Homo sapiens: one gene and its partners. The protein of the gene in region 2 purifies or fractionates together with the protein of the main gene of each other region. This does not show direct contact. Each region holds a gene or a part of one and is shown on either strand. Other genes may lie near its edges. The genes, in order: MMS22L, ASF1B, TONSL and CDIN1.

What was found.
Region 1: the proteins of ASF1B (region 2) and MMS22L purify together in Homo sapiens (co-immunoprecipitation; 5 studies listed by BioGRID and IntAct, with this or other methods). This does not show direct contact.
Region 3: the proteins of ASF1B (region 2) and TONSL purify together in Homo sapiens (affinity purification with mass spectrometry; 6 studies listed by BioGRID and IntAct, with this or other methods). This does not show direct contact.
Region 4: the proteins of ASF1B (region 2) and CDIN1 purify together in Homo sapiens (affinity purification with mass spectrometry; 5 studies listed by BioGRID and IntAct, with this or other methods). This does not show direct contact.

Annotation. Positions count from the first base shown.
Region 1 is NC_000006.12:97,141,628-97,147,221, forward strand, and holds the end of MMS22L (protein MMS22-like), read right to left. Parts: intron 5,261-5,594; coding exon 5,179-5,260; 3' UTR 534-5,178; downstream 1-533. UniProt on the Homo sapiens protein: Component of the MMS22L-TONSL complex, a complex that promotes homologous recombination-mediated repair of double-strand breaks (DSBs) at stalled or collapsed replication forks.
Region 2 is NC_000019.10:14,133,570-14,141,539, forward strand, and holds the start of ASF1B (histone chaperone ASF1B), read right to left. Parts: upstream 3,021-7,970; 5' UTR 2,888-3,020; coding exon 2,779-2,887; intron 1-2,778. UniProt on the Homo sapiens protein: Histone chaperone that facilitates histone deposition and histone exchange and removal during nucleosome assembly and disassembly. Cooperates with chromatin assembly factor 1 (CAF-1) to promote replication-dependent chromatin assembly.
Region 3 is NC_000008.11:144,428,273-144,434,476, forward strand, and holds the end of TONSL (tonsoku-like protein), read right to left. Parts: intron 6,008-6,204; coding exon 5,706-6,007; intron 5,488-5,705; coding exon 5,316-5,487; intron 4,189-5,315; coding exon 4,013-4,188; intron 2,880-4,012; coding exon 2,806-2,879; intron 2,266-2,805; coding exon 2,132-2,265; intron 1,065-2,131; coding exon 871-1,064; 3' UTR 503-870; downstream 1-502. UniProt on the Homo sapiens protein: Component of the MMS22L-TONSL complex, a complex that promotes homologous recombination-mediated repair of double-strand breaks (DSBs) at stalled or collapsed replication forks.
Region 4 is NC_000015.10:36,806,621-36,810,777, reverse strand, and holds the end of CDIN1 (CDAN1-interacting nuclease 1), read right to left. Parts: intron 2,455-4,157; coding exon 2,325-2,454; 3' UTR 534-2,324; downstream 1-533. UniProt on the Homo sapiens protein: Plays a role in erythroid cell differentiation.

The DNA of each region.
Region 1 (5,594 bases), on a different chromosome or scaffold from region 2:
ATCTTCCATTTCCATTTTTACTCTTCAAAATTAAAGGCTATATTGTATTTGTAATGTAAATTATTATACTAATGTGAATTTCTATAGGAAGGTCATGAGACTTGCAAACATTTAAATATCACTTCAATATTTTACTTTAAAAGAGGAAACAAAACACAGTACCAAACAGATGATAACAGATATTCTTGGTGTTAAAGGAAAAGCCAGCAAAGATGTGAATTTCTAAAATAATCTGTACAATGCAATAACACTTCTTAGATCCTTAAAAACAAAATAGCAATTAGGTAATGACTAGGGTACTTTTCATACTTTTTCCTTCATATTTTCTTCACACTTTAACCACATGTACATCAAACTCTTTCAGCTACCACAGCATCTGAAAACCTAACTTTCCATAGTTTTACCACAAAGTATAAAAACATCAGTAATAAGATAGAAATTATTACTTCTGGTAACATGGCTCATTTTTACTTTAGCTTCCAAACAGTGAATCTGTTATAAAAAGGAAGTTTTCAATAATCAAGGGCACAATGTAAGTTACATATATACTTTTATTATTATATATAATTTTATCATATGCACAAATAACTCATAAATATGTATATAAAACTAAAATGTCCACAATTTTTCTAAAAGCACAATTCACAAATGCAATGAATTGGATAGCCATTGGCACATCAAAAATTTTAATAAGTATAAACTGGTCAATTCCAACCATTTGGTAATTTACAATGCAGGTTATCACAGTATCAAAATACACCTTATTAAATTTGTAAAGAATATGCTATGTTGCTAGCTTCCCAAACCAACTGTTTCTAACCAAATAAAGCATATTATTTATATTGGCATACTATACTCTTGCCTGACAGGCAATATTTTTAACTCTAAGAGGGGTAGGTAAAAGATCAGTTTTTTGGAAAATAAAAGATTTATATAAAAAGTCTGGATAAAAAAGCAGTGGTTTAGTACAGATGATTCAACTTTTGGTGAGGTTTCTGTATCTATTTACCTTTTAGACATGGGGAGACATGAGTGCTATGATAACATACGGTTTGGGGAAGGCAGATTTCTAAAGGCTTTTCCTAACTGTAGAAGCTTGTCAAATTTTTATATAACATACAATTTTTAACTGTCAAAGATTCTGTGAAAGTACACAGAAGCAGGTCCGTGTAATTATTTAAGAACAAGGTAGTTTAAAAAATGTGTTGTAAAGCATGGAAGAAAATAATAATAGGTAAGGAAAACCCACAAACATCTGACTCACAAATATTTTCTTATACAGATGCTGAGGTAGAAAAAGTCAAATATGCTTAAGAAGAAAACATACGAAGGATAGGTAAAGATATACAAGTTTTAAACTATGAAATTCCTCTAATGCAAATGAACTCAATACTGAATGACTTTTCCACAGTCCTCCATGCTTCCTTCCTTGCCATGGAAACGTTCTAATTAAATTGAAATTTAAATCATAACCAAATCCAAATGCCTAATAAAGTCCTTTCATCACTCTGTTGTCCTTCAGTTGTCTTTTATACTCTATCTGGTATTTTATAGATATTATTTGACTGGAATACTCATGTATCCAAATGTATATTTTAATTTTCTTCCTATTTAAGTGTCTTCAATTTCTATAGGAAAGAGGTCCTATACAGTTTCCATGCTGTAAACTGAATGAGGCTGAGTGTAGGATGAACATGGCAATCAGAGAAAGCTGCTAAATGAGCCTCTTGTTTGGAAAGAGATAAGCTTGAAGATAAAGGTACAGTCAGATAGGTGGCAGAAAGTCTCCAGACTGAAGGGTTTGAACATCACCTTATAAACAATGGTAAGTTACTGGAAGTCCTCGAGCAGAAAAGTAACAAGAGGAAAACAGTATTTTAGGAATACACATTTCAGAACATAAGCTGTAGGAGAAGAAACCAGAGGTAAGGAAATAAGTAGTGCCCAACAGAAAAAACAAACAACCAGTGGATGCAAGGCACTGCAAAAAGATAAAAAGAAGCCTAAGATCCTGTAATGGTAATCAACTGAAAGTGGGAGAAACATGAAGAACCTAAAATGCCTCTGACATTTCAAGGCTAAATAACTTAGGACAATAGTGTATTCCCTGGGTAGAAAATGAAAGCAGGAGGTAGTCTGAGATTTCAGGAGACTCCAACTACAGAGGTTTAGAGATGAATTAGCACTAGGTGGCTCATCACGCCTGTAATCCCAGCACTTTGGGAGGCCGAGGCGGGCGGATCATGAGGTCAGGAGATCGAGCCCAACATGGTGAAACCCCGTCTCTACTAAAAATACAAAAAAAATTAGCCGGGCGTGGTGGCGGGCACCTGTAGTCCCAGCTACTTGGGAGGCTGAGGCAGGAGAATGGCGTGAACCCGGGAGGCAGAGCTTGCAGTGAGCCGAGATCGTGCCACTGCACTCCAGCCTGGGCGACAGAGCAAGACTCTGCCTCAAAACAACAACAACAACAACAACAAAAAAAAAAAAAAAAAAAAAAAGAGAGAGAAAAGCTGGAGTTATCAGTTCACCACTAACAGAATGTTGAGACAAAGCAGATGAAGGGTCGTATCTTACGACTGGGGACAGGAAAGAAGACCATGAAGGTGCTCTCAAGATACAGTGGTCATTTTTGGTCTGGGGACTGGTTCCAGGATCCCCTGTGCATACCATAATCTGCACTTACTCAAGTCCTGCAGTTAACCCTGAGGAACCTGCCTCTACAAAAAGTTGGTCCTCCATATACTCAGATTTTGCATCCCACAAATACTGTATTTTAGATCCACATATAAGTGGACCTGCACAGTTCAAACTTGTGTTGCTCAAGGGTCAACTGTATATGTAGGAAGGAGCAGTACCATTGTGGAAATGATGGGAAGATAAAAGAAAATACAATTGTCACAGAGAGGACAAAGAACATGAGAAAGGAGAACAAACTCAGATTTGACCAAAAGACAATGGCTTGTATTACACTGGTAGAAGCAGCAGCCTCAGAAATTACAGGGTATTTAGGGAAAGTGGCTATTAAAGAAGCAGGTATAAGGGACTCCAAGTCTGGGAATGAAAGAGGGCAAGATTGTAGTAATAAGTGAAGGATCAGTGAAGATTTTAAAAAAAAGGAACTGAGCCATAAATTTTCTTCTTTTTTCAATTTAAAAAAAAGCTTTAAAAAAAGTTACTTATACATAAATACAAAACATATAATACACACACATATTGTTACACACTTTGTTGTTACCATTCTTAAGTACAAATTTTAGTTATTCTTAGTATCTATAGATATATGTCCTAAAGCATGATTCAGTAGCAGCTTTTCCTATCCTTTAAACGTTTTCATACTCTAAGGAGCAAGATTCTCAAAGGTATCTTTATCAATCTCCTTTGGAAAAAAAAAACCCACACACACACACACACACACACACACACACACACACACACAAAAACACATATACACATAAATAACCTCTTTAAAGGCATCACCTTAAATAGATAAAACTCCTTAGTGACTGCTGGAACTTTCCAAGCCATACATTATTTGTTTAGTAAGTCACTATCATGATGAAAAGAAATTCAGTGTTATGAAGTCTATTAAACAGCCTTAAGCTTTCATTTATTCCCTTTGATGAAGCTGATTTGAGAGAAGGACCATTTATATGTTATGAAAATAACAGACACTCCTTTGGATTTCACAGATTATAATTAAGAGAACGCTATTAACTACAGAATACTGATTGCAAAGTATTTCATTTTTAAAGATACTCCTTGAGCCAGAGAAGGGTTGAAATGTTTTCTTGAAGGAAGAGTAGAACCATGATAAAGACTATAATCCCAAGAAGGAAACAAAGTACTTCAAAGTTAGAAAACATGATGTAAGAAAACATTGGAAAGTGGGATCATTCATCTGGGACATATCATTAGAGAAAGATAAAATTGAGAGGTGTTCTTTGCCTTAATTGTGCACGAGTAATAAACTAATCGTGTCTGTACATTTCCCAACAGAATTTGGGCCACCAAATATTTTCACGTACATTATCCCATTGATTCTCACAACAACACTGTCAAATAGTAAAGGGATTCTTCTTTTCTTCTCCATGAAGAAACTAGACTGAGAAAGGTTACGTAACTAGCTCAAGATCATAAAGCAAAGCTGAGTTTGAGACCCAGGTGGGTTCCCAAAACTAGGACTGGAGCTCTTTCAACCAAATAATGCTCAATAGGAAAAGGAGTCAAGGACAAGCTCCAACTGGTAAAACAATCTGGATGAGTTAAGAGTTCAAAAGTTGAGAAACAATGTTGTTAAAGGAAACTAAACAGGTTTCTTGGATAAAATGCTAAGTTATAAGAAGCTCTGGCTAAAGAGCAAGAAGATGGATCAGCTGACTTCTCAGACCACTACTATTGTTACTTTTCTAGAATATTTTTATTTACTCTCCTCTTAAAGTCTCCTTTATTTCCTCCTCCTGATATGATTTTTTTTTTAATGACAACTCCAAAAGAAAGGATGAATAAAAAAAAAATTTGGCAACTCTTGGAACCTAAATATAAACCCTGTTGGCATGTTTACACTTCTTTTTGGATATCAGCTGTATAATCCTTTAGCCAGATTCAGTCTCATTCCTAACACAGTTAAGTGTGCTTTGTAAGGGTTTTCTTTGTTAACTTGCCTCACACATATAAAAAAGAAAAACAAATACACAGTCACATTTCCCAACACCTTTCCCCCACCAAAAACACAGTATAGGGTAGCCAGGTACTTTGAAAAAGTATCATTTTAAAACATAACTATTATTGTAAAAATAAAAAATAAACATGACAAATCAGTCACAAGGCAGGGAGGCAGGAAGTCATACTACAACAAAAAGTCTATGGATGAAGTATCTGCTTAATACTCACACACAGAAAACACTCTCAGAAAATGTTTCTTTAATTTAGTTTAACTAAAATTTCATCAAGGTAGAATGCAGTTTTGTAAAAAGTTCCAAGGATCCTATTACACAGTTGCTAATTAACCTTCAGTTCCTTATTTATACATTTTTTACTTACAGATATAAAAGGAAAAAAAATCCTAGAAATTATTTTAAACAGAACATTATACAATTAATTAAAAGTAGGAATTAGAGTGGAACAATGTGGCTTTAGATACTGATAATTAATAGACAGGATGAATCACAAAATATATTAAGTATTATCATTTTCCAGTCTCTGCATCTCATCTTGTCCCATCTGTCCAAGGTGAGACAAAAGTTTGCTATAGGCTTCCCTGTTTAAGAAAAAAGAAAAGAAAGCAAATATATTAACATTTTCATTATTTTTCATTTCAGTATTTACAAATTAAGTCTGCCCATCATCCATCCATCCATCTATTCAGCCATCCATCCAGCAGGCTTAGCACAACACTTCTTAAAAAGTAATGCTTTATATCTATTGTGAGTAAACCTAGATGTTAAGATGTATTAAAGTATGATTTTTATATATAAAATGTGTGCTAAAAATGACATGTAAAAGTTCATTAACCTTCCGAAATATTATAATGCTCACGGGTAATAAAATGCATTCATGGAATATTATTTAAGGACAATGATGGTATGATTACA
Region 2 (7,970 bases):
AGGCAGGAGAATCGCTTGAATCTGGGAGGTGGAGGTTGCAGTGAGCCAAGATCGCGCCATTGCACTCCAGCCTGGGGGACAAGAGCAAGACTTCATCTCCAAAAAAACAAAAAAAGGACCAGCAGGTTGAATTTAGCCCTTCCGGCTCTAATTCTATAAATAAGTTAGTAAAGTCACAGGGCAGGGGCTTCCTAGGAGTAGAAGTACCAGATAATGACCGCACAACCATTTTTTTTTTTTTTTTTTTTTTTTGAGACGGAGTCTCGCTCTGTCGCCCAGGCTGGAGTGCAGTGGCGCGATCTCGGCTCACTGCAAGCTCCGCCTCCCGGGTTCACGCCATTCTCCTGCCTCAGCCTCCCGCGTAGCTGGGACTACAGGCGCCCGCCACCACGCCCGGCTAATTTTTTGTGTTTTTTAGTAGAGACGGGGTTTCACCGTGTTAGCCAGGATGGTCTCGATCTCCTGACCTCGTGATCCGCCCGCCTCGGCCTCCCAAAGTGCTGGGATTACAGGCGTGAGCCACCGCGCTCGGCCACAACCATTTTTAAATGCAAGGAACACAAACAGGCTGATTGAAACCTGATCTCCTGCCGTCGGGGAGCTGGGAATCCCTCAACCTATTACTTCCTTCCATCTCCTCCTGGCTTTTAAATTAAATCTTATTCCACAGCGTCATTCTACACTTTATTTATTTATTTACCCGCTGCCTTGTTCCAGAAAGGATTTAACTCGGCATATTCTATAGTTAGCCACAAGTAGACTCCTTAATTTAAAAAGGAGCGAGAGAGACCGGGGAGAGACAGACCCACTGGCCTACCCAAAGCACATCCACATCTCACTCTATCAGCTCCAAGCTAGTCCAGGCGACCAGCTTTGAGGGCAAAACACCTACCTGCCCCCGAGAGGCACTAGTTAGCATATCCTGGCTTCACAGGCCCCCAGATCACCACCTCCTCGGCTGCTGCCTTTTCTCTTTCAACCACCAAGTAGAAAAATGGCCTAATGGAGTACTTCTTCCTGAAAGCAGGACTTGCCTGTTAGTGGTGCCAAGGCTCCCTAGGTGACCTTAGATTTTGGATTTGTACAGGCCTTGACTTGAAAGGTCTTTTGCGTTTTGTGGCTCCTGTCTTCTCATCTGTGAGATGAGAGCCATGCCCACCTTTAAGTCACACAGATTAATAAGTACATCTACGGAAGCACCTTGGAAAAGATGTACAGGAGGCTGTGACCTCCAAGCTCCAGCCGACTGTTTGAAGCTGGAGCCCGTCACAGCTCAGCCCAATCCACCCACCCCCCAGACTAGGTCAGACCATCAAAAGCAACGGGAGCTTGGCACTGATTATCCAGCTATATTAAAAAAAAAAAAGAAGAAGACGGGGCACGGTGGCTCACGCCTGTAATCCCAGCACTTTGGGAGGCCAAGGCGGGTGGATCACTTGAGGTCAGGAGTTCGAGACCAACCTGGCTAACATGGTGAAACGCTGCCTCCACTAAAAATACTAAAATTAGCTGGGCGTGGTGACAGGCGCCTGTAGTCCCAGCTACTCGGGAGGCTGAGGCAGAAGAATCGCTTGAACTCGGGAGGTGGAGGTTGCAGTGAGCCGAGATCGTGCCATTGCACTCCAGCCTGGGCAACAGAGTGAGACTGTCTCAAAAAAAAAAAAAAAAAAAAGAAGAGGAAGAAGAAGAAAGAAAAAGTGACAGAAAAATTGCTGCAGTAACTCAGCTGGAAACGGGTGGGCAAACCTGGAGAACTAGCTAATGCCTGCCTGGCTATGCCACCCCTCGGATCTCAGTGTGTTTATCCAAGCCCACAGAGAAAGGTGGGGAAGGGGAGCTGGGGAGACAAAGTTCCCCTCAAAGACGGTAGCATCCTTTCCCAGGGAGAGCTCAAGCATAGGGGGGTTGGGCCCCAACGAAGGAGAGAAACCAGGTTCCAGGGTATGTGCATTGGGGCAGAAAAGCGGCAGCAACTGGTGGGCGTGGGGTTATTGAAATATTGGCAGGTTGGGGAGGGGACTGGTGGGACACAAATGGGAAGATGGGGTTGAGAGAGGTCCTGAAAAGGGGTTGAGGGGTTTTCACAGGAAAAAAAGGTTACTGGAGGGGAGGGTCTTCACGGCAAGGAGAGAGGAGCTTGGGTGAGAGGTCTCCATAGGGAAAATAGGAGATGGCTGGGATTTCCCCCGGGGAAAATGGGAAGGGGCTGGATATTGGGGGTCTCCAGAGGGAAAATGGGAGGTGTGAGTATCTCACTACAGGAAAGAGGGAATAAGTGGGCAAAAATGGGTGGGTGGTTGAAGCGGGGGTCTTGCCACAGGGAAACCACGGTGGCTGAAGATCTCCGTGGGTTAAGAAATGGAGGCCGAGAAGGTCTCCCCATGAAAACGGGTACCTAGGAAGAGCTCCAGAGAAAAAAGATGGATGAGGTTCCCCACGCGGGAAATGGGGCTTGGAGGGGGTTAATCTCTATGGGGAGGTCGGGGCGGGCAGTGGGGGAAGAGGCCACTGGGAGGTCCGAGTTAGCTGGCGGGGGGTCTCCACCCGGGAGGTCAAGGCGGGCAGTGGGGGAGGAGGTCACGGGGAGGTCCGTGTTGGCTGGTGGCGGGGGGTCTCCACCGGGAGATCCGGTTGACTGGCGGGCTGGGGGAGATCGGGGTTGGCGGAAGGGGGACGAGGGGTTTCATGGGGGAGATCAAGTTGGCCATGGGAGCGGTTCTCTGAGGGGAGGCCGGGGTCGGCCCGGGGGTGGGGGTCCCCGCACAGGCCCAGCCTCACCGTCCGCCAGGGCTTCACTGCACTCGAAGCTGATCTCGAACCGGAAGGGGCTGTGGAAAGGGCTCGGGTTCTCCAGGACCGCCACGTTCAGCACCGACACCTTGGCCATCGCCTCGCCTCGCCGCGCCGCAGCAGGGGCAGGGGCTGTGGCTGTGGCGGAGGCCGCGCCTGGGTCCGGTGGGGTCAGTGGGGTAGGGCTGACCAGGTCCACTCCCGCCTCTTCTCTCCGAGAACTGAAGTGCGCACCTAGTCCGCGCGCCGCCTTCAAATAGCCGGCCTCCGCCCTCTGGCCAATCACCGCCAACGCTCCCTGGCGGCGCGCGCACCCCCTCAGCCAGTCCTGGAGCGCCGATCGGCGCGCGCCCAGACTCCTCGGACCAATCAGCGGAGCTCCCTCTCCGCAGCGTGTGAGGAGGGCGAAACTATCTCCAAGCTTCTTAGCGTGTCCGCTGGAAACCAATCCCCAGCGTCTCCGACTTGGATGTCAACGGCGGGAATGGACGGAGTCACAGCGCCGGCCTCCTTCTGGCCAATCCTGAGGGTTCCCGCACCGGCGTGGCCCGCCCCTCGCCTCGCTTTTCCGGGAGATGCATCCCGCAGCGCGCAGCGCCGCCACCCGCCGAGCGGTGGCGCGCGGCGCTCGCTAAAGAAGGCGGGAAGGGCGGTGCTCGCACCCGAAGTGATTGGCAGGAGGGAGTGGGGCGGAGATAAAGAGGGTTTTCTGAGAGTTTATTGGCTGGATTGGTAATGGTGGCGGGAGCAGAAGGAGGCTCAGCTGGGGATTCGCTGGAGAGAAGCGGAAGTCGAGCGCCACCGCGGTGTTGGCGAGTGTGAAGAGAGAGGAGGAGCGTTTGCGGCCTCAGCGTCTGTCAACAGGTGAGCGTTTCCTGGAGCTTTTCTGAGTGGCTCCTGACCCTTGAGGTCCAGCGGCGCGGGAGTCCGTTGTGAACGTTGCGAACGTTCGGAGTGGCGGTCACGAGGCGCGCTCAGACCTCGGGAATCCGGCCGGGTTCGGATCCCGCTTTCGCCCCCGAGGGGTTCGGATCCCGCTCTCGCCCCCGAGGGGTTCGGATCCCGCTCTCGCCCCCGAGGGGTTCGGATCCCGCTCTCGCCCCCGAGGGGTTTGGATCCCTCTCTCGCCCCCTTGAGGGCTCTTGGGAGGTTTCAAGCGGACGGTACTGAAAATGGGAGTTCCAGTTCGGGGGCAGACCAGTGTTCAGAGTCCGGGCTCTGCTACTCAGCGCCCGAGGCAGCGCCTCCCCATTCAACGGGGGCCGTGGCAATTCCCTGACATGATTCATGACCACATAATACATCCGGAAACTTCTCTCCACCGCCTCCCGTCTGGGCCGTCGCCCCCGGCCTGGGAGACTCCAGGTCTCAGAGTCTCTGCCCCCACGGGCGATCAGTGCTGCCCAGTGGAAAAATAATGCCAGCCGCGCACCAAAATTAGGTGTAAAATTAACATTTTTTGGAAGCCACTTTTTTTTTTTTGAGATGGAATCTCGCGCTGTCACTCAGGCTGGAGTGCAATGGCGCGATCTCGGCTCACTGCAACCTCTACCTCCCGGGTTCAAGCGATTCTCCTGCCTCAGCCTCCTGAGTAGCTGGGATTACAGGTGCCCACCACCACAACCAGCTAATTTTTTTTCTGTATTTTCAGTAGAGACGGGGTTTCACCATGTTGGCCAGGCTGGTCTCGAACTCCTGACCTCAAGTGATCCGCCCGCCTCGGCCTTCCAGAGTGCTGGGATTACAGGCGTGAGCCACTGTGCCCGGCCATATCTTTTTTTATTATTATTTGTAATTTTAGAGGCTGGTCATGGAGGATTTCTTGAGGCCAGGAGTTCAAGATCAGCCTGGGCAACATAACAAGACCTCATATCTACAAAAAATAAAAGAATAAGCCAGGTGTGGTAGTGCATACCTGTAGTGTCTGCTACTCCTGAAGCTGAGGCAGGAGGATCTCTTGAGCCCAGAATGCTCCAGCCACTGCACTCCAGCCTGAGTGTCAGAGTGAGACCCTGTCTCTAAAAATTAAAATTAAATTTTAAAAAAGAAAGTTCAGTTTAGCTGTCTTGATAGCCGCAGTTGAGTGCTCCTGAGCCCGTGTGACAAGTGGCTCCTGTATTACTGGACAGCGAAGGTCAGAAACACATTTGACCAGGTCACTTCTCCGGATGAGAGCATTGTCTTTGAAACTCTATGCTTTGTCTCCTGTTAACCACCCAGCTCCAACTTCAAACCAGGCTAAGTAACCCTCTTTTTGTTAAAATTCTGACAAGCCACTCCCAGTGCAAAGCCTCTGCCCAGAACCTCTTCTCCTAGGCTCTTGGCATGGCTTATGCCTTCTTGTCATTCAAGTCTCTGTTCAAATGTCCTCTCCCCAGAGAGGCCTTTCTAAGGGTGCTCTGGACAGTGTTCAAACTCACAGGCCGTACGCCTGAACAGCACTGAGCCAAGGCACTAGTATTTCTTACCCAGTCACCTCTGTGGGCTCACTAGGACTCACTCACTGTGCTAGTATGTTTTCCTTTTCCTTTTCTTTTTAAACAATCCAGTTCCTGTGGGATTTTTTTTTTTTAATAGAGGTCTGTTGCCCAGGCTGGAGTGCAAGTGGCATAATCGTGGCTCACTATAACCTGGAACTCTTGGGCTCAAGTGATCCTCCCACCTCAGCCTCCCGAGTGGCTGGGATCACCAGTGCGTGCCACCATGCCTAATTTGTTTTATTTTATTTTATTTTTTTTTTGAGAGGGAGTCTTGCTCTGTCACTCAGGCTGGAATGCAGTGGCGCAATCTCAGCTCACTGCAACCTCCTGCTTCCAGCTTCAAGCGATTCTCCCACCTCAGCCTCCCGAGTAGCTGGGACTACAGGCACACGCTACCTTACCCAGCTAATTTTTGTATTTTTAGTAAAGATGGGGTTTCACTATGTTGGCCAGGCTGGTCTCAAACTCCTGACCTCAGGTGATCCACTCACCTCGGCCGCCCAAAGTGCTGAGATTACAGGCATGAGCCACCGTGCCCTGCCTCTTATACTTTTTAAATTTTTTGTAGAGACAGGGTCTCGCTGTTGCCCAGGCTGGTCTTGAAACTCCTGGCCTCAAGCAGTCCACCTATCTTGTCCTTAAGTGCTGGGATTACAGCGCCTAGCCCATTTTTGGTATCTACATCTCACATTAAGTTAAGAAAAATTCTTTTTAGCTGTTAAAAAATCGAAAGCTTTGTTTTTATTCTTTTGAAATTATTTGGCTTCAAGGAAACTCACATTTATGATTCGCTTGATTTCTTGGCAATCATTGCATACTTAGGGATATTTGTGATTTGAGAAAATCTAATTTCCAAATGTAATTCGATTGCTTATGAATACTAAATTTAATGATTAATGCAGTTGTCATGATGTCACATTTCTAGATGCTTAATTAAACATTTATTCATTCCAACTTTGTAGTTTTCTCTTTGCATTGTGGAACTTTTTTCCCTTTATCCCTGTCCCTGACCTTTTCGTAGCCCCTGAGAAGCTCATGATCCACCAGCATTATTTCCGTGGCGCTAATGAAGAATGTGGCCCTGTCTATGATGCATTCTCCTTACAGCTGGCTGAATGATCTTCACTTGTAAACCAGATCATGTCATTACTCTGCTTAAAACCTTCAGAGGCTTATCCTACTTAGAATGAAACCTAAGATCTTTCCTATGGCTTAGGCGGCCCTGCGTGGTGGCCTCAGCTGACCTCTCAGGCCTCATCTACCATTCTTCCTCTTGTCACCGCTCTCAAGCCCAGCTGGCTTTATTTCCCTTCTTTCAACACACCCAGCTTATTTCTGCCGCAGGGCTTTGCACTTGCCGTTCCCTCTGCCTGGAATGTGCTTCCTCCAGATAATTGCATGGCTGTCTCTTTCTCTTCGCTTGTGGTTCAGCTCAAATGTCCTCTGAAAGAAGACTTCCCAGAGTACCCTATTTAAAGTAGCACTTTCTTGGCCGGGCGCGGTGGCTCATGCCTGTAATCCCAGCACTTTGGGAGGCCAAGGCAGGCGGATCACGAGGTCAGGAGATCGAGACCATCCTGGCTAACATGGTGAAACCGCATCTCTACTAAAAATACAAAAAATTAGCCGGGCGTGGTGGCGGGCGCCTGTAGTCCCAGCTACTTGGGAGGCTGAGGCAGGTGAATCGCTTGAATCTGAGAGGTGAGGGTTGCAGTGAGCTGAGATCGTGCCTCTGCAATCCAGCCTGGGTGACAGAGCAAGACTCCGTGTCAAAAAAAATAAATAAATAAATAAAGTAGCTTTTTCTTAATCACATCACTCAGTTTTATGATCTTAGTAACGCATATCAGAATTTGTACTTATTTTCGGGTGGGCATGGTGGCTCACACCTATAATCCCAGCACTTTAGGAGGCCAAGGCGGGCCGGTCACTTGAGGTCAGGAGTTCGAGACCAGCCTGGCCAACATGGCAAGACCCCGTTTCTACTAAAAAAAAAAAATACAAAATAAATAAATAAATAAATAAATAAATTAGCTGGGCGTGGTGGCACGTGCCTGTAGTCCCAGCTGCTCAGGAGGCAGAAGAATTGCTTGAACCGGGGAGGCAGAGGCTGCAATGAGCCGAGATCACGCCACTGCACTCAAGCCTGGGCAACTGAGAGAGATTCCATCTTAAAAAGAAAAAAAGAATTTCTACTTATTTTGGTTTTAAATTGTGCTTATTATCTCATCATCCCTCAGTAGATTGAAAGCTGGTTGTGAGAAGAGATCTCGCCTAGCTCACACCTCTCAATGTTGTACTTCCAGAGCTTAGCAGAGGACGTGGCTCATAGAAAGTCCTCAATCAATTTTTCAAAAAGAATAAATCTGGCTGGGCGCAGTGAGTCACACACTCTGGGAGGCCGAGGTGGGCGGATTACCAGGTCAGGAGATCGAGACCATCATGGCAAACATGATTAAAACCTGTCTCTACTAAAATACAAAAAATTAGCCAGCCGTGGTGGTGCGTACCTGTAGTCCTAGCTACTTGGGAGGCTGAGGCAGGGGAATTGCTTGAACCTGGGAGGTGGAGGTTGCAGTGAGCCTAGATTGCACCACTGCACTCCAGTCTGGTGACAGAGGAAGACTCCGTCTCAAAAAAAAAAAGAATAAATCTATGTAAAGGGTGGGTTTAGCATAGTACCTGGAATGTGAAAAGTAC
Region 3 (6,204 bases), on a different chromosome or scaffold from region 2:
AGCGGACGTTCTGCGGCCACAAGCAAATGTGCAAAACAACCTCGCAGAGTGGACAACGAGCAAGGAAAGCCAGTTTCTAGAACATGCCAATAACGTGACTTTTGCGGCGCTCAGCCGAAGCTGTGCCGGGGCCTAGGCGCGCCCAGAGGGTGCCAGGCCCTGAGTCGCCTCTCCCCACTCTGCCCCTTCCCCGCCCACCGGCCGGGCCCCGGGTACCTGGACGGCTCGCGGTCGGGAAGATGGCGCCGGGGGCGGGGTGCGCTCGGTCAGCGACTCGGCATTCGCCCCTCATGTCTGCGCCTGCGCGCGTCGGGGCGACCCCCCGCCCCTCCGTCCCCATCGGCAGCTCGGCGCTCAGCCCTCACGCCTGCGCCCGCGCCCGCCCGGACTTCGGGACATTCCCTCCAGCCGCGCAGCCCCCGGGACGTAACCGGCGCAGCAGACTCGAAGCCCGGTCTTACCCCGCCCACCCGCCTGCCAGGCAGCCACGGGGAGGGAGGCAGCAGCTTCATTTATTTTATTTTTTTTTTTTTTTGAGACGGAGTCTCGGTCTGTCGCCCAGGCTGGAGTGCAGTGGTGCGATCTCGGCTCACTGCAAGCTCCGCCTCCCGGGTTCACGCCATTCTCCTGCCTCAGCCTCCGGAGTAGCTGGGACTACAGGCTTCCACCACCACGCCCGGCTAATTTTTGGTATTTTTAGTAGAGACGGGGTTTCACCATGTTAGCCAGGATGGTCTCGATCTCCTGACCTCGTGATCCGCCCGCCTGGGCCTCCCAAAGTGTTGGGATTACAGGCGTGAGCCACCGCGCCCGGCCAGCAGCTTCATTTATTAGGGGCTTCGGTGAGGGTGGGGAAAGGCAGCGCCAGGGTCAGAGGCGCCGAAAGAAGAGCTTGGAGCCGTGGTCCAGCGTGCACTCGCCGGGGCCCGGCCGACTGGGCTGCAGCTGGCGCAGGGCGTCCCTGTCCTCAGCGCAGAGGCGTCTGCTGCACAGCTGCAGTTCCCGGAGCTGCGCGGCTATCTTGTCCCACAGGCCCAGGCCCAGGGGACCCTGGACGGCGCAGCCTGCGGAGGGGAAGAGGGCAGACCTCAGCGCTGCGGGGGCCGGCGGCGTCCTGGTGCCCGCGGCAGGCTCCAGGGAACAAACTCGCTTTCGCTGAGGGCCCCAGGGCTGTAGCGAGGGGCAGTGGGCAGAGCTCCGGAGAGGCCCCATGACTCTCCAGGAAGGGGTGGGATCATCTGCACAGCCAGCGGTCAGACAGGAGGAAGGGTGGCTCCCTTCTTTACCTCTGACAGTGCCCGATCTCAAAGTCCATGCCTACACGTCAGTCTCCCCACCCATAAGAAGGACATAATGGATCTGCTTGCAAATCTGTACATCGTGGGCCTGAGTGGATCAAGAGAACACTAAGCTCAGGAATTCAGGGAGCTGGGTGGGAAGGTACAGATGCCAGGAACTGAGGTGTGGGGAAGGGGTCTCACACCAGCACTCGGGGGCCTTCCTGGAAAAGGCGGCCTGGCCCTGGGAGGTGAAGGGGAGGGGGCACAGGAAGAAAGCAGAGCCCCGCTTCGTGCACATTCACTTAAGCCCTCATCCCCTGGAGGGCACAGCCTGCCCCGGCCCCAGTGGGGCAAGCCAGGTCATCAAAGCCCTTCCTGGGGTTGTCTTCCAGACAGCTCAGGTTGGGGACTGCCCTGATGTGGCTCAAGAGAGAACAAGCTAAATCAGACCACAGCCCTGGGCAGGGTTGTGTCAGAGGAGCCCCTGCCAGGAAGTAGGAGGGTCCCTTGGCAGCTTTCAACACCCTGACCTTGGGATCCCTTTTCCTGCCAGGGACAAGAAGAAAGTCCCTGTGGAACAGGGTCTTGCCTACCATAGTCTGCTCTGAAGGTTGGGTTGGAGAGACCAGAGGCAGATACCCACCTCGCCCCCTAACCCATGGTTTTAGGAGCTGGGATCATGCCCCTTTTCTGTCACTGTCACTCTGCCCCCTGCTGCCCCAGCCTCATGGAGCCCAGCCTTGCTGCCTGGCTGGTAGCAGTGACAGCCCCTTAGGAGGAGGCACCTGGGTCTCAGGCAGGTCCCTGAAAAGGCCGAACATGGCAGGCGTGGCCACCATACCAGCACTCACCTGACAGGCCAAGGAAGCTAAGGCCTTGGGGCCGCTTTTGGAGGGTGGACAGGAGCTCTTCCAAGCTGGCACAGCTGATCTCAGGGTTGGCAGACAGATCCAGTGAGATGAGTGAGGGGCACAGAGAGAGACATCTGAGATAACATGGGAAGAAGTGCAAAGGTTGGCTTCCAGAGAGGCTGTGCCCCAACACTAGGAAAGCTGCCCAGACAAATGCCAGCTCAGGGAGCCTCGGGCCAGACCCAGGGGCTCTGCCTCAGCCTGGCCCAGTAGCAGGTGGCCCTCTAGGGTTGGGGGTCCTTCCCAGGGGTCAGGGCCACAGTGGCCAGCTCTGGGTGTGCCTGGCCCAGCTTGGGCTCCTCTCAACACTCCCCAGAGAGCTGACTGAGGCTCCAGGTCATAAGAGCAGTGCCCTCATGTGGGCCGAGGCACAGGAATGACAAGGACACCCCCGGAGGAGTGCTCTCAAGAGCCACAGGCCCATGCTAAGAAAGAAGCCAGAGGGTAGTCTGCCTTCCAGGGCAGCCTGAGAGGCTGGTGGAAACCGAAGGAGCCAGGTCTTGGGATGTGCTGGGGAGGAGGAGCTGGTACCATTTCTGTGGCCCTTCTCCCATAGGGTCCAGAGCCATGAGATCAGACCCCCAGGTCAGCAGGCAGCAGGGAAAGGGCGTTACCTGCACAGGTCTCTAACAGCCTTGTCCCCCAGGTGGTTTGCAGACAGGGTCAGGTGGGCTAGAGCACAGCCTTCCTGGACATGAGCAGAGGCCCAAGGGGGCCAAACGGAGTGGCGCACCTGCCCTGCCTGCTTCCCAGCAGGTGCACCACACCCAGGGGCCCAGAAGGGAGCAGAGTCCCCCATCAAGTTGGAGATCGGAAGGAAACACCTCTCCTGATGTGGGTCACACTCTGCACGTGATAGTGTGAAAATAATAGGGTCCCAGTTGTGCCTGGAAGACCCCCCAGGAGAGAGCATCAGGGGCCCTAGTGTGCCCCTTGGGACCTTCCTGGCGGGGGGCAAGATCACCCTGAGTCCCGGGTCCTATCTGGTGGGCAGGAATTCACAGCCTGAGACAGGCAGCTGTACAAAAGCATTCCCCCAGCTGTTTTTTTCTTTTTTTGTTTTTTTTTTGAGACAGAGTCTCGCTCTGTCGCCCAGGGTGGAGTGCGGTGGCGCCATCTCGGCTCACTGCAAGCTCCGCCTCCCGGGTTCACGCTGTTCTCCTGCCTGTCTCCCAAGTAGCTGGGACTCCAGGAGCCCGTCACCACGCCCGGCTAATTTTTTGTATTTTTTAGTAGAGATGGTGTTTCACCATGTTAGCCAGGATGGTCTTGATCTCCTGACCTCGTGATCCGCCCGCCTCGGCCTCCCAAAGTGCTGGGATTACAGGCGTAAGCTACCACGCCCAGCCTGTTTTTTTCTTTTTCTTTCTTTTTTTTTTTTTTTGAGACGGAATCTCGCTCTGTCACCCAGGCTGGGTGCAATGGTGCAATCTAGGCTCACTGCAACCTCTGCCTCCCGGGTTCAACCAATTCTCTGCCTCAGCATCCCGAGTAGCTGGGATTACAGGTACCCGCCACCACGCCTGGGTAATTTTTGTATTTTTACTAGAGACAAGGTTTCACCATGTTGGCCAGGCTGCTTTTGAACTCCTGACCTTGTGATCCACCCCCTTCGGCCTCCCAAAGTACTGGGATTACAGGCGTGAGCCACCGCGCCTGGCCCCCCAGCTGTTTTTTCTAAACCTCCAAACCTCTAACTCTCTCTGTAGAGCCCCTCAGCGAGTTCAGCCCGAATCTGGGGAGAGGCGAGCTCCTCCCAGCAACCCTGGGACCTTTGGCCTCTGAGGCTCAGTATTTTCTGGGTTCTTCCCCACCTCGTACCTTGGCCAGGTATCGGAATACAGGCTCCATGAGGTCCGAATCACCCTTGCCGGCTGCCACGGAGCTGAGCTCTAAGTGCAGGAGGGTGCCGGCGGGCAGGCTCTGCAGGGTCCTGGCCAGGGCAGGGGCTCCCAGGGCGTTGTAGGACAGGGACAGGGTCTTCAGGTGCTCAGCATCTGCACCGGGGCCAGAATCCGTCAGCCCCACGTGGCCACAGCCCTGTACCCACCCCAAGTTCTGGGCCCAGAACCCTCAGGACCCCTTTGGGGAAACCACTACCGCAGTGCTCGCAGGGTGGGGTGGCAAGTGCAGAGGCAAAGGCTCTCGCCCAGATTCTCCCAGCTGGGAGGGCGGGGCCAGACTTCCAAGCTCGGCTGCCCCCAGTTCTGGACAACTTGCCCTCTCCCACCCCACAACCACACGGTCCTGGGCCACATGCCTCTGCACAGTGGGGGTGCCAGGGGAGTGCACTGACCATTGCTGCCCCCCTTACACTCCCCCTGGATGACACCCAATTCCCAGCCTCTTGGCACTGGGACCCCAGTCTCTGCAGCCTGAGTGGGCTCACAGTGGAACTGCCTCAGGCGAACAGCACTCAGCTGGCGAGCACGGGATGGGGACCACAGGACACTAGCTGCCCGGACTCTGCTCTCGGTGTGTCCTGCGGGGGTCAGCCTGGCTGGGTGGGCACCAGACGCCCCTCGGAGGCAGACCCTGTACCCACACATCCATCTATTGCTCCCAGGTGCCAGGCCCTCCCGGAGAGCCAGGTCTGGCATCCCAGGCCCCTAGACGTTGTTTGTTTCGTTTTTTTGACACGGAGTCTTGCTCTGTCGCCCAGGCTGGAGTGCAACGGCGCGATCTCGGCTCACTGCAAGCTCCGCTTCCCGGGTTCATGCCATTCTCCTGCCTCAGCCTCCTGCGTAGCTGGGACTACAGGCACCGGCCACCACGCCCAGCTAATTGTATTTTTAATAGAGACGGCGTTTCACCGTGTTAGCCAGGATGGTCTCGATATCCTGACCTCGTGATCTGCCCGCCTTGGCCTCCCAAAGTGCTGGGATTACAGGCGTGAGCCACTGCGCCCGGCCTAGACGCTTTTTTCTTAAGGGATGGGGTCTCACTATGTGGGCCAGGCTTTCCTGGAACTCTTGGCTCAAGCGATACTCCCGCCTCAGCCTCTCAAGTAGCTGGGACCACAGGTGTTGCCCCTGTGTGCCCAGCCTGGGCCCCCTCTGAAAGTCCTGGAAACCCTCAATGCCCCAGGGCTAGGGAGTGGACAGGGAGTGCCTGGTCAGCTCACCTTGGAAAGCACTACCCAGTGCTGTCTGGTGGCTCAGAAAGAAGCTGGGGCCGAAGCCACACGCCTGCAGGCGCAGGGTGCTGAGTAAGGGGCAGGCGTGCAGGAGGGAGGCCAGGGACTGGCCACAGCCGTCCCCCAGGGGGTTCATGCTTAAGTCCAGCTCCTCCAAACTCTGTGGAAGACACAGGCTGGCAGTGAGCCCCCAGCAGTCCCACGGACAGGGTCCCCCTTGGGGCTTGGCTTGGCAGTCTCTTCCCCACCTTGCCTGGCATAGCCTATTACAGCCGGGCACTGGCTGGCTCTCCCAACTACCCTAGACCACCCAGGGACCTGCAGAATGGGAACCCCAACTCCCCGCTGTTGAGGGCCTGCTGCTCTCTGTGCCTATACCTGCAAGGTGGCTTGGCCTGGGAGCCCCATGGCAAGCTGGCGCAGGCCTTCGGGACCCAGGTGATTGGAGGAGAGGTCAAGGAGGGCCAGGCTGGGCATGGTGCCCAGGGCAGCCACCAGCTCAGCCACACACTTGTCCCCCAGCCGGTTCCCTGCCAGGCGCAGCTCCCGGAGTGCTGTGTGCAGCTTGAGGGCCCGCAGCAGGGGTGTAAGCTGGGCCTGGTCCAGGGCCAGGGAGCAGGCGCTGAACGAGAGGCCCAAGCCCTGGAGCTCCACGGCCTGCAGCACCTGTTGGTGCTCCCCTGCGGGAGGGATGTGATGTCACCAGGGTAAGGCCGGCCCTTTCTGCCCTCTGAATCCCAGAGGGCAAACCAGGCAGCCCCTTTTCAACAGCCCCAGGGGTCACCCACCAGACTTGCTGTAGAGCCCACTCGCACATGCCTGTGGGTCTAGCACTGTGAGGCCCTGGGGGCCGGGGTGGGTCTGCAGCACCCTGAGC
Region 4 (4,157 bases), on a different chromosome or scaffold from region 2:
CTCCTGCTTTCTGGCTTTGCATAATTCATTAGCATAGTGTGCAGAATGCACCATAAAACAAGATTTGGCTTTAATGTTAATGTTCTAATGATGACAGCAATAAAAATAAGTTGTCATTCCGTGTCTACTTTCTGGGGCTGATGTTTATATTGTCTAAACTAAAAAAACCAGCAAGCAGACAATGCATAGAGATGGAACACAGACAAGTATTTTTAACAGAAAAAGAAACAAACCAAGGAGACTTTAAGCTTCCAGTTGGGAACATTACTCTCTTCTCTCCCATACAGCTCCAATTCAAAAGTAGTATAATTATCACATTAGTTTTTATGTGTGAAAAACTTACTTTTGACTAATTTGTAACCTTATTGTAGTGTGTACAGTTTACTGTTGGGTTCTTTCTCACTTTTAAGGGCCAGATTTTAAAGCCTCATTCATAAAGAGGAGGTAGTGCCTTTGCTAGGAACACCAATACCTTCTCACAACACATTATGTCAGGGCAGCAGGTAAAAGAATAAATACAAAACGCAAGTACCTTTTTTATTTTTTAATTTATTTGTTCACGTTCATCATAATAAATTTGTTTAATGTAAAATAAACAAATCCTTGACAAGGGTTTAACAGGATTTTCAACATCTGTGCAGATAAATGTAATTTATTCCTAAAGAAAAAACAGTTTAGAACATGCCAGGAAACCTGCTTTTAACATTTTTGTATAAAGTGTGTGTGTGTGTGTGTGTGTGTATCCAGGCAATACAGTAGTGGTTTCAAATCATTCTATTTCACTCAGAAGCCTGCATGATGAATTTTATACTGAAACAGAAGTTTGCCTGACCCTTCTTTAGCATTTCATCTTCTGCCTCTCTCTTTTGATTTAATGCACCCCACTCAGAGTTAAAATCCACACATGTTGGGACCAGGTTTGTGTCCTTCAAAAGGAAAAGCAGCAGGCATATTTTTACAAACCTTCTTTGGTAGAAAATAAACAAAGTATAAATGACATATTTAGTCTTTTGAAAAAAATCAAGCAATGTATATAAGTTAAAGCTGTCTGCAAAAATTACATTGTTGTTATTAGTATTTCCCATATCATCTATTCAACATTATAAAAGTTGTTATGTCAGCATGGCAGGGTGGCGGGGGCAAATATTTTACTAAATACGTTTTGGGTACAGATTAATATTCAACTTCCCAAAAGATAGGTTTATTATTAACTTACTGATGTTTCGCTTTAGACTGAAATCTGATTTGCAGTACATAAAAGTACACAAAAGTGAATAAATTAAAGTGAACAAATAGAAAAATCTCCTTTATTTTGCTTATTTAAAAATTGCTCCAGGTTTATTTCTGGCACACTCAGTTCATACAAAGCTAAACATTTCTAATGCTGAACTTACTCGAGTGTTTTATAATTACATGGTATAAAATGCATATACTAAGCAGTATACAGAATGTGCCTTTAAAAAACTCGACTCATAAAAATACTAGCTCACGTACATACTGACAACTAGCCATGTTTAAAAATAAACTCTCCTCAATGTTGGGTTGTCGCCTCTCGGCCCCCAATCTAAAGGAGTGTGGTTTCCAGGCACAATGGAACTAATACTTTCAAATAAGATAAATCTAAAATATGTGGTGTTCAAATAACATTATTAAAAGAGGAAATTCTCATCAAGTGTATTTTTGCACTTGGCTTACTGTCACAGAAGTCAGGAAGCCGTAAAGATTGAATATAGCAAACACACAGCATAGGCAGGCTGCCATCAAGGTCTTCTGGAGCTCTGCAGGTGAGTACAAAGGTGGCTTTGGACTTTGTGGCTTCAGCTTTCCTAGGTTTGCGCTAGATTATTCCACGATGGTAATGCAATGCTGGGTCTCTGTGAGTGCACATGAAGAGAAAGGGAGAGGGAGAGACAGTGAACGGAGGCTTAGGGAAAAAAAAATAAGAGGGTGATTCGGTAACTGGGAGGAGAATTGAAAAATCACACCTTTCAGTCTTCACATTTTTTCTTTTGTTCAGCATACAAGGATAAACCATCCGGAAGAAAGAAAGATTATGACTATCTATAAACTAATTGTTTGACAGAGACAGAAATGCTGATAATGAGTGGGTTGTGTCTGTAGTTCTTGGCTGTTCACATCAGCAAGGGATGAAGGAAAACAGAAACTCTTGATATGTTTGTCTAAAGAGGTAGTGGTGTGACTACGGGCAGCAAGAGTTCAGCTGAAGTTCAGGGCAGATGTTGCCAGGATCTTACAGTGCAGGAAAGTAAAATTGCTTCCGGATTCACCTTTTCCTCCCAGCTTCTCTTCCAGGATCTTCAGGGTCAAGCTATGCTGTGGCATAAGGTGACAATGTTCGTGGGGAAACAGGCTTTGAGCAGGATGCCCCTTTCCCGGTTGCAGTCCAGCTCCTGGATAAATCCATACCAATAGATGACTAAGCCTGGCCCAAATCTGTAAAAACACCAGAAAATAACACACACACATGGTATCAACAGAGCTCTTGAAAAAAGTCACCTTGGGGCACTGATAAGATGATTAAATGACAGGACTGCACAAAATTTTTGTTTTGGTTGCTACCATTGTGACTGAAAATAGCCAAACTTATACCAAAGAGTTCACATAACACACATACTACCTTCTCGGATGGATGTGTTCCCTTTCTTTCCAGAAACCTGAAGTATTTCAGATATGGAAACTCTGAATCTTACCTTTCAGTAAGGTGTTATGAGCTTGGGCTGATGTGACTACCTAGCTGATGGAGGACAGATTCACAGTGCAAACAGGAATGAGCTGGGGAATGCCAGCCTTGGGATTTAAGTCTAACATTTAATGGTACTATTTAAAAAATTAAACTTGCCTAATAGCAACTAAGAAAAATAAAAGAATGTTTGAAAACAGAATTTAAAAAAATGCAACAACTTATGGTCCTCTTCTGGCTATACTGTTCTACTTATGCACCCATTGGGCTGGAAGTACCTCCTGTCATCCATATGACACACTGGGTCCCTTTACTCTCTGCATTACAACTTCTTTAAGTGTGGACACAGCATAAAGTTTGGTCATTGGTGCTTACGGAAATGAGGAATAAGGTCATATAGGCTTGTGACAAAGTATAGATCGCTACGGGCTTAATAAAACCTCAGCATTTCTAAGTTGTGCCCTCTGAATTATCTGCAATTTTGTTAGCAGTGACTGATCCCCGCCAGGCAGACTCAGGAAGTGGCCCTATGGACTACTTCACCCATCAGGAAGTTGAGACCTTTAGGCTGGGTTCATAAAGATGTAATCACTATCAATCACTGCACACAGAGAGATGTTTTGCACATCAGTTTCACGTTTTTCCTACCGAGGGCACTTAATTAAAGGGCAGCACTACTTTTGGTGTAGTGTTGCAGGAATTTTACAGTGAAATAATAAATTATGAATGTTGGGTTAGTAAAAGCATGTCTAAAAACAGAACTGCTTTCTGTATTCTAACATTACAGCAGGCTGAACCATGCTAGGCCAAAAAGCTTTTGCCTTCCATGATTTATTATATGCTGTAGTGTACTTGCCAAAACTAACAATACAGGATGGGCTGCGAGATACTGTATGCACAGGGACAAGTTCAATTGGATGTCACGGCCTGGTTTATTTGGGGATCCACATTAGTGGGGTAGCCAAGTTGTATTCAAGATTATTTAAAACTTTGGGATTCCCCTCTGTGCAGGTACAGAACCATGAGATGGCAGCTCATCACTTGATCTTGTTCTAGAAGATGTAGGAACTGGGTATAATTAGAAGCCTTGGAGCACCAGGCCCACTGAGATTTATCAGCTGCAGATGTTCTCTTCTTCCTCAGCATCCCCAAAGAAGAGATTCCTTTGGGGTCAGTAGAATTAGGCTACCTGTGCACAGGTGTGTGGGTCCCCAGGCTCAAATGCATACAAGACGAAGCTCACACCTGCAGAAGAACTTGCTTCCATTTAACCGAGGGTTTCTTAGTAACTTTTAATCACAAACACTTGTCTGTAATTGGAACATAAACCATTGGTACCTTTATTTTACAAAGAGCTCTATGATTAGTGTCAAATGATCTCAGATTTGTCAAAACAAGTCTGGCAAGAACAGAAAGATTTGTGATTCTGTGGACCATGTCTGAGAAGCCACAAACC